Homo sapiens: one gene and its partners. The protein of the gene in region 3 purifies or fractionates together with the protein of the main gene of each other region. This does not show direct contact. Each region holds a gene or a part of one and is shown on either strand. Other genes may lie near its edges.

Evidence for each region.
Region 1: the proteins of ZNF776 (region 3) and SIRT5 purify together in Homo sapiens (affinity purification with mass spectrometry; one large-scale study listed by BioGRID and IntAct). This does not show direct contact.
Region 2: the proteins of ZNF776 (region 3) and ZYG11A purify together in Homo sapiens (affinity purification with mass spectrometry; one large-scale study listed by BioGRID and IntAct). This does not show direct contact.

The regions. Positions count from the first base shown.
Region 1 is NC_000006.12:13,591,502-13,595,227, forward strand, and holds part of SIRT5 (NAD-dependent protein deacylase sirtuin-5, mitochondrial), read left to right. Parts: intron 1-167; coding exon 168-393; intron 394-3,726. UniProt on the Homo sapiens protein: NAD-dependent lysine demalonylase, desuccinylase and deglutarylase that specifically removes malonyl, succinyl and glutaryl groups on target proteins.
Region 2 is NC_000001.11:52,863,260-52,866,759, reverse strand, and holds part of ZYG11A (protein zyg-11 homolog A), read right to left. Parts: intron 2,780-3,500; coding exon 2,603-2,779; intron 258-2,602; coding exon 193-257; intron 1-192. UniProt on the Homo sapiens protein: Probably acts as a target recruitment subunit in an E3 ubiquitin ligase complex ZYGA-CUL2-elongin BC.
Region 3 is NC_000019.10:57,745,298-57,749,717, reverse strand, and holds the start of ZNF776 (zinc finger protein 776), read right to left. Parts: upstream 2,904-4,420; 5' UTR 2,660-2,903; coding exon 2,627-2,659; intron 1-2,626. UniProt on the Homo sapiens protein: May be involved in transcriptional regulation.

The DNA of each region.
Region 1 (3,726 bases), on a different chromosome or scaffold from region 3:
ACCCTGCCTGGCATCTGCCATGTTGTTTGAACATAGTGCTGCCATCTCCAGCCTGCACCTTCCCGACGCTGCCTGTCTCTGCCTTAGGGAGGAAGGGCCTGTGCCCCAGGGTTCAGCATCCTGGCTGTCTCTGCCTCCCTCACTCCTGCCTCCTCTCCCACTCCCAGGACCTGGCGACTCCCCTGGCCTTTGCCCACAACCCGTCCCGGGTGTGGGAGTTCTACCACTACCGGCGGGAGGTCATGGGGAGCAAGGAGCCCAACGCCGGGCACCGCGCCATAGCCGAGTGTGAGACCCGGCTGGGCAAGCAGGGCCGGCGAGTCGTGGTCATCACCCAGAACATCGATGAGCTGCACCGCAAGGCTGGCACCAAGAACCTTCTGGAGATCCATGGTGAGAGACCCCCAGCCTCCCATTCAGGGAACCAGCTTTAAAACACCTGTCCTGCTGTTTCAGCATCACCTCTGGTGCCTTCCCTCCCTCCCTGCTGGACATCCGTCCTGTCCTATAGGATGCTGTGGCATTTCCTTTGGGGACATGTTAGTGTCCCGTGGCACCTGGGCAGCTGCCTTTGGCCATGGGAGGAGCCCCTGACCCACTAACATTATTCACTTAGCAGTTCCTCCATCCTCGCTGCTCAGGGTGGTCTAAGAGCCAGCAACATTTGGCGTCCCCCAAGAACTTGTTAAAAATGCAGAATCTCAGGCCCCATAGGCCCCACTGAATCAGAATCTGCATTTTCCCATGAGCCCAGGTGGCTGGCGTGCTTTTTATACTGGAGGAACGCTGGGGTGCACAGCTGCGTGACCCTTTCCTCTGTGGAGGGGCACGGTACTGTGAGACAATGGCCTCAATGAGCTGAGGAATAAGAGGCCTGGCCCATTGGACAGCTGGGGCTTGAGCAGGAGCAGACTGCAGCATCTTGGGGTCTCCTGTCACTCCCCCTTCATCCTGGTGGGCACTCCCCACTGAGGCTGTGCTTCTGCCCCGCCCTGGAGCCTCAGAGAGCTGCCAGCTCAGTGCTGGACACTGCACCAAGCCCACCAAGCCTGTGATGTCGGTGGACCCCACTGAGGCTGTGCTTCTGCCCTGCCCTGGAGCCTCAGGGAGCTGCCAGCTCAGTGCTGGACACTGCACCAAACCCACCAAGCCTATGATGTCGGTGGAGTTTGTCTTGGGTCCCTCTGGGCTCCTTCCTCTGTCCTGGGTAACCCCTCACCCCTTCACTCTTGTCTTCTGGCTCCTCCCTTCTTTGCTGTCACCACAAATCTAAAACATCCACTTGTCCACAGTCATAATGGGCAAACTAGGGTTTCCCCCAAGGCCATTTGCATTTAAAGAGTCTGCATTCAAATCCAAGGAATGCATTTCTTATTTTTTAAGCATTTATTTCTCTTAATTTAATTTAATTTAATTTTTTTTTTTTTTTTAGCAATGGGGGTTTCACTCTTGCCCAGGCTGGGGTGCAGTAGCCTGATCATAGCTCATTGCAGCCTTGAACTCCTGGCCTCAAGGGATCCTCCCACCTCAGCCTCCAGAGTAGCTGGGACTACAGGCACATGCCACCATGCCCAGCTACTTTTTAAAATTTTTGTGGAGAGTGTCTCACCATGTTGTCCAGGCTGGTCTCAAACTCTTGGCCTCAAGCAGTCCTCCCTCCTCAGCCTCCTAAAGTTTTGGGATTACAGGCTTGAGCCACTGTGCCAGCCAAAAATGCATTTCTAAGTGTAGCATTTCCAGAAGCAGTGCACCAGTCGGGGGTGTTTGTTTTTGCGTGTGTGTGGTGAAGCTGCCTGCTTTTACTTAGATCACCCTGATAAGGAAAGCGAGGCACTACTCATTTCGACTGTGTCTGTCTTTTGTTCATCAGGAACAGCCAGCCACCTATTAACCGAGCATCTTTTTGGTACCTACATCTGCTGGGTCTGAGCCACTTTCCATGTGCCTCTGCTGATTTCCCTGCAGTGTCAGAATGTGGGCTATGTCATCAGCATAAAACCGAGATGACAATGCCTATCTTATAGAATTGTTGTCGGGATTAAATAAGATCATATATGTGTGTTAGTCAGGACTTTTTAAAATTTCAAACGATGAGAACTCTCTTCTAACTTAGGTTAAAAAAAATCAATGGCATCTTCAGTCTGATGAAGGGTTTTTTTTAAGATGCATCATGTTTTTAATGTGGCATTTAGAATATAATCTGCCTAAACCATGATATACTATTTTATTATCCCTTAGAATTATTCTATACTTAGAGAAAGAGCTTGTTAAAACTTAGACACGTTCTTTAGAAATTATATCTTTCCAGGCATACATAAAGTATGAGTATGATAAACTGGTCCAAATATTTCTCATTATCTAGCTCTTCTAAATGATTCTGAGTGACTCAGAGCACGGATGTCTGTGTTTTCCATGCAGTTTCATGCTCTGTGTCTCGGGAGATGGATGATGCAGCGTTTCCTGAGAGAATGCCCCTCTGTTATAGCTGGGATTCTCATCCAAGCTCCTGACACACCTTCCGCAAGTTCGCTATTGGGCCTGACATGTTCTTACCAAAAGGCATCAGTGGAAAGGCTGTAGACAACAGCCAAAACTTGCTTTCCTTCCTGAAGTGGCCCTTGAAGGGTTTGTTGGCGGAAGGATCCAGGGGCTGAATCTGCCCGGTCAGGCCACGGAGAATAACAACAAAGTCACCCCATTTTTCAGTGTTCTCCTTCAACAAGTCTGTGCAAGCATGATGATGATGTTACAGTCTCATCTGGCCAGTAGCAATTGTAGGACACATCTGAATTTCAGAGATGTGAAAATGGGGAAAAATGTCTATGCTAAAACTGACAAAGTAGGTTTATTGGCTCACAAAACTGAGGAGCCTAGTGGTGCAGCTTATGTCATCTTTCCTCCCGGCCCCTGTCCCCCTCCTTCTTTCAGCTTTGCTCACTCTTTGAGGTGGCCTCCCTTCTCTCTCTGCAATTGATCTGTCTCCACGCGCCAAGGGAGAGTGCCTCCGACGGCTCCAGCTCAGCCACCTGCTCAGAAAATAAACCTCTGGGTAGGCTTGCTTGGTCCACACGCCCACCCTTCTGACCAAACACGACTGCAGAGGGATGGACACCACATGGGGGCCGTGCGCAGCATGTGGCTGAGCTTGTATTTGGGATGTGACCCACAGCCCTATTGGCTCAGCATGCGAGAGAGCAGGGATGGTGCTCCCCAAGGAAGGACTGGTGGGCAGGACGGAGCAGCGCATGTCCACTAGGGTTGAAAGTGCTCTGCACGGCACCAGTTGCCTGGTACCCATTTCATAAACTGTGGCCACCATGATTGCTTCAGCTCAATAAGTGGTGGTTAGTATTAACAATTACTTTTTTCACTTATTAGTTGATTACTTATTTATTGAGGTGCTTTTGTATAAAAGATTCAAGCTTTCTGAAATCGAAGTTAAAATTTTGTAAACATATCCCACGCCATTGAACCTTTGTCAGTCATGTCAATAAATCACGCCCTTAGATTTAGGTTGAGCTCCCTCTACCCTATTGGCAACTTCTGCCCACTTGAACACCACTCCAAGGTCATCTGATGGCACATTAGTCATGGAGTTATTTATTTTTCCTCCAGATTATAAAGTCCTTGAGGGCATATGCTCTTGACTGGCTTAAGAGTACTGCATGCCTCTGTTTCCCATGAAAGCTAAAGCTAGGGTAGGCCCATTTGCTAAAATGAAGTATG
Region 2 (3,500 bases), on a different chromosome or scaffold from region 3:
TCTTACCCACTATCCTATACTAGAATCACTTTAGGAGACAACATTTTCTAGTAGGGTACTTCTAATCACTTCTCTGTGGAAGATGCTCAACAGAACCTTCTCTCCAAACACCTTATCCCAGCCTTAATCAGGCCTCTGCATTTAATAACCAAAGGCCAACACCCCAGTCAAATGACCAAGTCTTATACTTGCCTGTCAAATGGAACATCCACAAGAATCCTGGAATTGGTTAAGGAGAGAAGACAATTCTTCTGTAACTTTTAGAGAATAAAGAAAAATAATTTTGAACAAATGTAACATTCCATTCTAAACAAAGATTCCATGTATTTGGAAGTATTACTAGTGAGCTTTTCTTATTGAGAGCTCATTTGTGTACCAGCATTAAATTTTCATTTAATGCTGTAACTGATGACTGCCATGCAGGAATGAAGACTTGAGTAGGATTTTCCAACTTTAAAAATAAGGTAGAAATAAATGAGGAAAACCACCTTCCTAACTGTATTTTTAAAAAATCAACTCCCTTGGCCGGGTGCGGTGGCTCATGCCTGTAATCCCAGCACTTTGGGAGGCAGAGGCAGGCGGATCACGAGGTCAGGAGATCGAGACCAACCTGGCTAGCACAGTGAAACCCCGTCTCTACTAAAAATACAAAAAATTAGCCGGGCGTGGTGGTGGGTGCCTGTAGTCCCAGCTACTCGGGAGGCTGAGGCAGGAGAATGGCATGAACCCGGGAGGCGGAGCTTGCAGTGAGCCAAGATTGTGCCACTGCACTCCAGCCTGGGCGACAGAGCGAGACTCCATCTCAAAAAAAAAAAAAAAAAAAAAACTCCCTTTACAAAGTACACATTTGTATTAGATTTCACAAATTTATACCCCTGTGTAACCACTCCTACAATCAAGATATAATACTTCTATCACCCCCAGAGAGTTCCATTGTCCCCTCTTCAAGTTAGTCTCAACCCTGTAAACCCTATCCTCGGAAAATTACAGTCATTATAGATTAGTTTTTTTAAGGTGTTATGCAAATGGAATCATGTACTTCTGCTCTTTTGAGTTTGGCCTGTTTTGCTCAACATATAACATTTTTGAGTTTCATCTACACTGCAGATATCAGTACTTCATCTCTGTGTGCCAAGTAGTGTTTCCCTAAATAGATTTATTACAATGCTTCTATTCGCCTGTTGTTGGACATTTGGGATGTTTCAAGTTTTTGGCAATAAATAAAGGTACCATGAATATTTGTGTAAATATCTTTATATGGATACATGCTTTCATTTATCTTCAGTAAATACCTAGGAGTGGAATGACTAGGTAGTTTATGAAGTGTATATTTAATTCCTAAAGAAACTACCAAAGTGTTCAAATCTTTTGATCATTTTTATAACTGATTTGTACTGTATTAACAAGTTGAGTTCTTTATATACTCTGAATGAAGTTGATTCTCATATATATATAATGAACATGTTTCCCAGTCTATCATCTACCTTTTCATTTTAAAAATGTGTGTTGTGGGGGAGGGAGCCAGGCATGGTGGCTCCCTCCTGTAATCCCAGCACTTTGGGAGGCCAAGGCAGTGGATCACCTGAGTTCAGGAGTTCGAGACCACCCTGGCCAACATGGTGAAACCACATCTATACTAAAAATACAAAATCAACCAGGCATGGTGGCATGCGCCTGTAATCCCAGCTACTCAGGAGGCTGAGGCAGGAGGCAGAGGTTGCAGTGAGCCAAGATCGTGCTACTGCACTCTAGCCTCGGCAACAGAATGACTCCGTCTCAAAAAAAATAATAAAAATAAAAATGAGTGTAGGCCAGGCGCGGGGGCTCACGTCTGTAATCCCAGAATTTTGGGACACCAAGGTGGGCAGATCATGAGGTCAGGAGATCGAGACCATCCTGGCTAACACGGTGAAACCCATCTCTACTAAAAATACAAAAAAAAAAAAAATTAGCCAGGCATGGTGGCGAGCGCCTGTAGTCTAAGATACTCGGGAGGCTGAGGTAGGAGAATGGCACGAACCCAGGAGGCGGAGGTTGCGGTGAGCCGAGATCATACCACTGCACTCCACCCTGGGCAACAAGAAGGAAAATCTCTCAAAAAAAAGAAAATTTTAGCCTCACTGCTTATCTATATTTCCTATTTTTTCTATAACAAACACACTCTTTTATCTATTCTCTTTCTCTAATAGGATGAAAAACCAGAACTAAATAATATCTATTTTTCACATATTTATCCTAAAGTTAGAAAACACAAATTGTCTGCCGTATGCCATGGCTCATGAGGCCAGGAGTTCGAGACCAGCCTGACCAACATGGTGAAACCCCGTCTCTACTAAAAATACAAAAATTAGCTGGGCGTCGTGGTGCACGCCTGTAATCCCAGCTACTCAGGAGGCTGAAGCAGGAGAATTGCTTGAACCCGGGAGGCAGAGGTTACAGTGAGCTGAGATCGTGCCACCGCACTCCAGCCTGGGCGACAGAGAGAGACTCTGTCTTTAAAAAAACAAAAACAAATTGTGCCACGGCACTCTGGCCTGGGCAACAGAGCTGAGACTATTAACAACAACAAAAAAAGCACAAACAAATATTCAATTGAAATTACCTGCTGGTAATGGGGGAAATTTTTCAGAGCCTTGAAAAGTAGACAGGTGACCTCTGACAACAGGCGAACAGGCATCCCCTTGGCCAGGCCCTGGCGTGTTAGGTTGAGAGCGCAAGCACTGGCTGTGAACTGCACTCGCAAATCCAATGGGTGATTCCTCATTCCTATAGCCACAAGCTGAAGATGAACTTGTTTTTAGTGCATATGATGCCAGTAACATTCTCTATGCTGTCTTGTGCATGTTTTGATTGGCACAAATCTTCGTTTATTGGGACAGGAACAGATTTTCCCTATCCTAAGCATTTATTCTTTAGAACATCAAAGTATTACAGCAAAGCCTTCTAATCCAAATGGAGTCACTAACTATCTGTGTGACTTTGGCCAAGTCACTTCCTTTCTCTAGACCTCTATTTCTTTATCTGTGAAATTAACTTCAGAATCATTTATTGAGCCTCACTCCATACAAGCTACTGTGACAGGTACTGCAGGGGACACAAACATGAGTGAGAGCTACTCGTTAGCATAAAGCCTTGTGACAGTAATAACACTGTGAGAAATGCCAAAAAATAAAATTGAAGAAAAGCACCATAAAAGACGCATCAATGAAGTGACATCTGAGGTAGTTATGGAAAGAGTGGCCATTTCTGGGAGAGAATCAGAAGAACTCATTGAGAGAGCACATTTAGGCAGAGTCTCAGGATTTACACAGGAGGAGATAAATGTAGGGGCAGAATGGACAGGGTATTCCTAGGGGAAAGAAAGTGATAAAGAAAAACAGAAAGTGGAAAAAAAGGATGGGATAAATCCACCAACAGAGGAGAAGAATTTGAAAAATGGTAAAACAAAACATTAGGTAACTTGAAGCTACACTGTGGAAGACCTAGAACACAAATGTAAA
Region 3 (4,420 bases):
AAAGTATAATAACCAGGAATTCTGCCTGGTCTCCCTAATAAAAGGATTATTAGGCCATGCTGATTATTATCTAAAAGAGCCTAGTGGGAAGGGAATTGGTTCTCAGGTCATTTGAGGTCATACCAATATCACTAGATGTCAAGGTGACACATCATATTGGGCCTCCATTTTTGGCTTTATACCACAATATGGCTGACAGCATCCAATATGCTTCACATATTCAAACAGGATCCAATAATAACACAAAATGACCATGGTTCCCATTAGCAGTGGTAGTCCCTAATAATTCTATGAATGCCTCCTTGCATTACTCCACATCCATGCAAAACCACATGTAACTTCAGATATCCATGGTCTTATTCCACTTCTGTGCTACAATGGCTTACCCTTCAGCAACACGGACCAACTTCCATTCACCTAATACCATTGCCATTTAAAGAGCAGTCCTGGATGGGCATGGTGGTTCACACCTGTAATCCTAGCACTTTGGGAGGCTGAGGCAGGTGGATCATGAGGTCAGGAGTTCGAGACCAGCCTGGCCAATATGGTGAAATCACATCTCTACTAAAAATACAAAAAAAAATTAGTGGGGCGTGGTGGCACGCAACTGTATTCTCAGCTACCGGGAGGCTGAGGCAGGAGAATCACTTGAACCTGGGAGGTGGAGGTTGTAATGAGCCAAGATTGCGCCACTATACACCAGTACACCAGCCTGGGCGACAGAGTGAGACACCGTCTCAAAAAAAAAAAAAGTCCTGTTTTTAATCCATTTAAGGCCCAAGACCTACTGTCACAGATGACCATATTTCTCCCTGAGCATATTCAGCACGTGTAATGAAACCCCCCACACACTACCAAAGTCATCTCAAATCTTGATTGCACAGAGTGGTGAATAAGTACCACTCTGGCCTAAGTGTCATCTTCCCTCAATTTGACTACACTTCTGCATATATCTATTTCATGTCTATTCTCTCCTTGAAAGTCTATGTCCCCTGTCAAATTATGCTGACAGGTATACCCTACCATCATGGTCACTTACCTACCTCTCCAGTGTTTAGGAAGCCCAGTAACATTACCCAGGGACCCAAGCAACAGATGCAGTCCTCATCATTCAACCACTGCTTTCTGGTCCCCTAAAAGATTTACCACCAGAATCTGAAGTGTGTTCTCCTTAATGTGACCCATGGCTCACTCACCATAGCATACACATTAGCTACCATATATTAGATGTCTCCAGTGTCAATCCCTTTCCAGATACCCCAACCTGCATGTCCATAGCCATTTGATGCCTACACTTATTCGTCTCTGACTCTTCATATGGCCATAACAGTCATCCTGATATTTGCATAATATTCTAATTATGTTTATTACCAACATGCTCATCTCAGCTGATGCAGCTTCCATAGCTACAGCTACTAAGACCAAAAACCTCGGGATCCTGATTGCTCTCTTCATGCCCTTACTTTGTGTATTAGGAAACCTAGATGCTGTAACAAAATATCAACTTTGAATCCAGCCACATCTCCTTAGCCATGAATCTTAGTCTGTTAACCCTCACTTGGATTACGGCAAAAGCCTCAACTCTCATCTTATTTCCTCCTCTCTCAACCCCACAGTCTGTTCTCCACTGTACAGCCAGAGGAGACTACAGCCAGATGAAACTGTGGCAACATCACCTCCTCCCTCTGGTCAGTTTCACCTCTAAGCATTTCACATCCTGGTACTAACTCCTGGGTTAACCTTCCAAGTATGTTTATACTGGTTGACAGAAATGGGAATACCTCCATATATCCTGTGTCACAGACTTTGGATCCTGGGTTTAAGGTTCCTCCAGGGTTCCCATATCAAAAAACTTAAAAAAAAAAAAAAAAAGGTACCTAAGAATCCCAGGACATCCCAATCTAAAGAGCATGTGGATAGGAGTTAGGGCCAGTGAGGGAATAACACCCTCCGCTTCCCTGCGGAGGTTCTGCAAGTGCTTCTGCAGCCAGGAGTTCCTGAGAGGAGAGGCACAAGCTACAAGAATGTATCCCTGATGAGATTTGATAAGCTCAGGCCTCCCTGAACTCTTTCTTGGCCCTGTAACTAGGTAAACGCGAGTTGGTTGTCTGAACTGAGCGCCTCAGTACAAAATGTCATCTCTTAGCACCTATCTGATCTGTAGAGGTTGAACAAGAATTCAACCTCCCAGGGCCCAAAAGTCATCCCCTGTGTTCTTTTTCGACTGGACTTTGGGAAACCTTTAAAGCCTGGACATTGATCTTTTCCTTCCTTTGTTGGAAGCTGTCCATGGCTTCCAGCGTTCTCAGGGTGAATACACGGTCCTCAGCCTGCTCTTCCAGGAGGAGCTCTGCCTCACACTTTGCTCCCGACAGGTGCCTGTGGACCCTAGGTTACGATCCTCTCGGCTCAGTTCATCTCCAGGCCTTTGCCTGCACCGCTCCCTGTGCCTGTAGCTCTCCTGAGCGCATCCCGCGGGTGTCAAAAACGGGGGCCCATAGAGAGCGCCTCAGTGTCCCGACGCCGGGTTCAGGGTGTAAAACCTTGAGCAGGCGCCGCTTCCTCTCTGCTTTTGGACTTAGGTAAAGATGAGGTGACCTGAGGGCACGGAAGACGCCACAATTACCTGAGCCGGGGGCCTCAGCGCGGCCGCCGCCATCCGACTGGGTGGGGAAAGCGGGGTCGAAAGGAGGGGGCGAGCAGTGCAGGTACCCGGGCACGGTGGTCCCGATCCCGGCCTTGGTGCGGGTCACGCCTAGCGCCTTTAAGGAGCTGCAGAGCAGCCTCTGTGCAGTCGGGACAACGTCTCGTCTCCACCTTCTGGGTTCAGTCACTTCTACACGACCCAACACTCCGCGGTCTCTCACTGGAAAATACACCCAACACCAATCAAAATGGCCACTAGTAGAGGACGCCGGAAGTCCCACCTTTATACTGTTTCCGCGGAAACGCCTTTATTTTGAGCCCTCATTGGCTCTGACGCGCTGTCATTCGACGCAGAGATTTCTGGGTTATGTAGTTTCCTCAGGTTCCAAGACAGTTCCAAGGCGGTAAAGAAGGCCTTCTCAGAGGCGCTTGATTGCACAGAGTGGTGAATAAACACTACTCTGGCCTAAGTGTCATCTTCCCTCAATTTGACTATACTTCTGCATGTATCTATTTCATGTCTATTTTCTCCTTGAAAGTCTATATCCCCTGTCAAACTATGCTGTCAGGTATACCCTACCATCACGTTCACTTACTTGCAGGAAAGGCCCAGCTCCATCTCAGCGGCCTGTCCTTAAAGTGCATGTCCTTCTAGGGTAGAGGATAGTCTCACCTAGCCTTAGAACCCGTATTGAGATTTTTGGAGATTAGTGTCTGTAACTGATCACTCAAGTATTTGAAAAAATATTATTTTAGATTTTGGGGAACTCGAGCTCTCCGATGCTAAACTTATTATTTAGGATGCCCCCAAAGACTAAAAATCCAAATTATCATAACGTTTTGAACAGTCTTTCAGTCGCAAAATCCCGGTACTGGCAGCAGAGGCTGATAAACATTATTGTGTTATAAATTCACATGAATGCACTCTGAGGCATTAGAGTCAGTTTCTCAGTCTGTCAGGGACAAGAGAGAACTAATCCAGATAGGACAAGACAAGGAAGATAGAGGAGAAATGTTGTGTTCCCTAAAGCAGGAATACATGCTGAATCTCTGTCTGTGATTCCCACAGAAGACAACTCTCCTGCCTATAAAATCAATCATAGTGTCCAGTACATTGAGCAACACTTTTATCCACTTAGTATCCCTCGCTTGAGATTCCAACTTATATTCAATTAATTCTGGATTAATTTATCTAAGATTTATCAATCTTACAGGAAGACCAATGAAAGAAATGCTATTTTGGTAGTGATAAATGGCTGCAGTTTTCAAAGGTGGGGCACGTATGCAGAAGATGCTCTCCACCTGTTGATATTGGTTGTGTCTTAAATCCAGGAGTTCATGTTATTGCTGGGAAGTGGCTATTTTTTTTTTTTTGTATTAGATAAAACAGACTTTATTTATTTCTTTTCTTTTTTTTTTTTTGTGACTATTCTTTATTTCTGTTTCCATGGCAAGGAGTGTTTTGCCTAATAAATTAATGTTATGGATGGGATTACAGGCATGAGCCACCATACCTGGCTAATTTTGTATTTTTAGTAGAGACGGGGTTTCTCCATGTTGGTCAGGCTGGTCTCGAACTCTCAACCTCAGGTGATCCACCTGTCTCGGCCTCCCAAAGTGCTGGGATTAAAGGCATGAGCCACTGTACCCAGCCGCTCAGTTCTTAAAAAACCTATGTCTTCTATGTTCAGGGAGAAGAGGCATTTAGAGCAAGAGCTTACTCATTCTCCATTTCTGCTCAGAAATAAAACTTGCTTGCCTTTTTTTTTTTTTT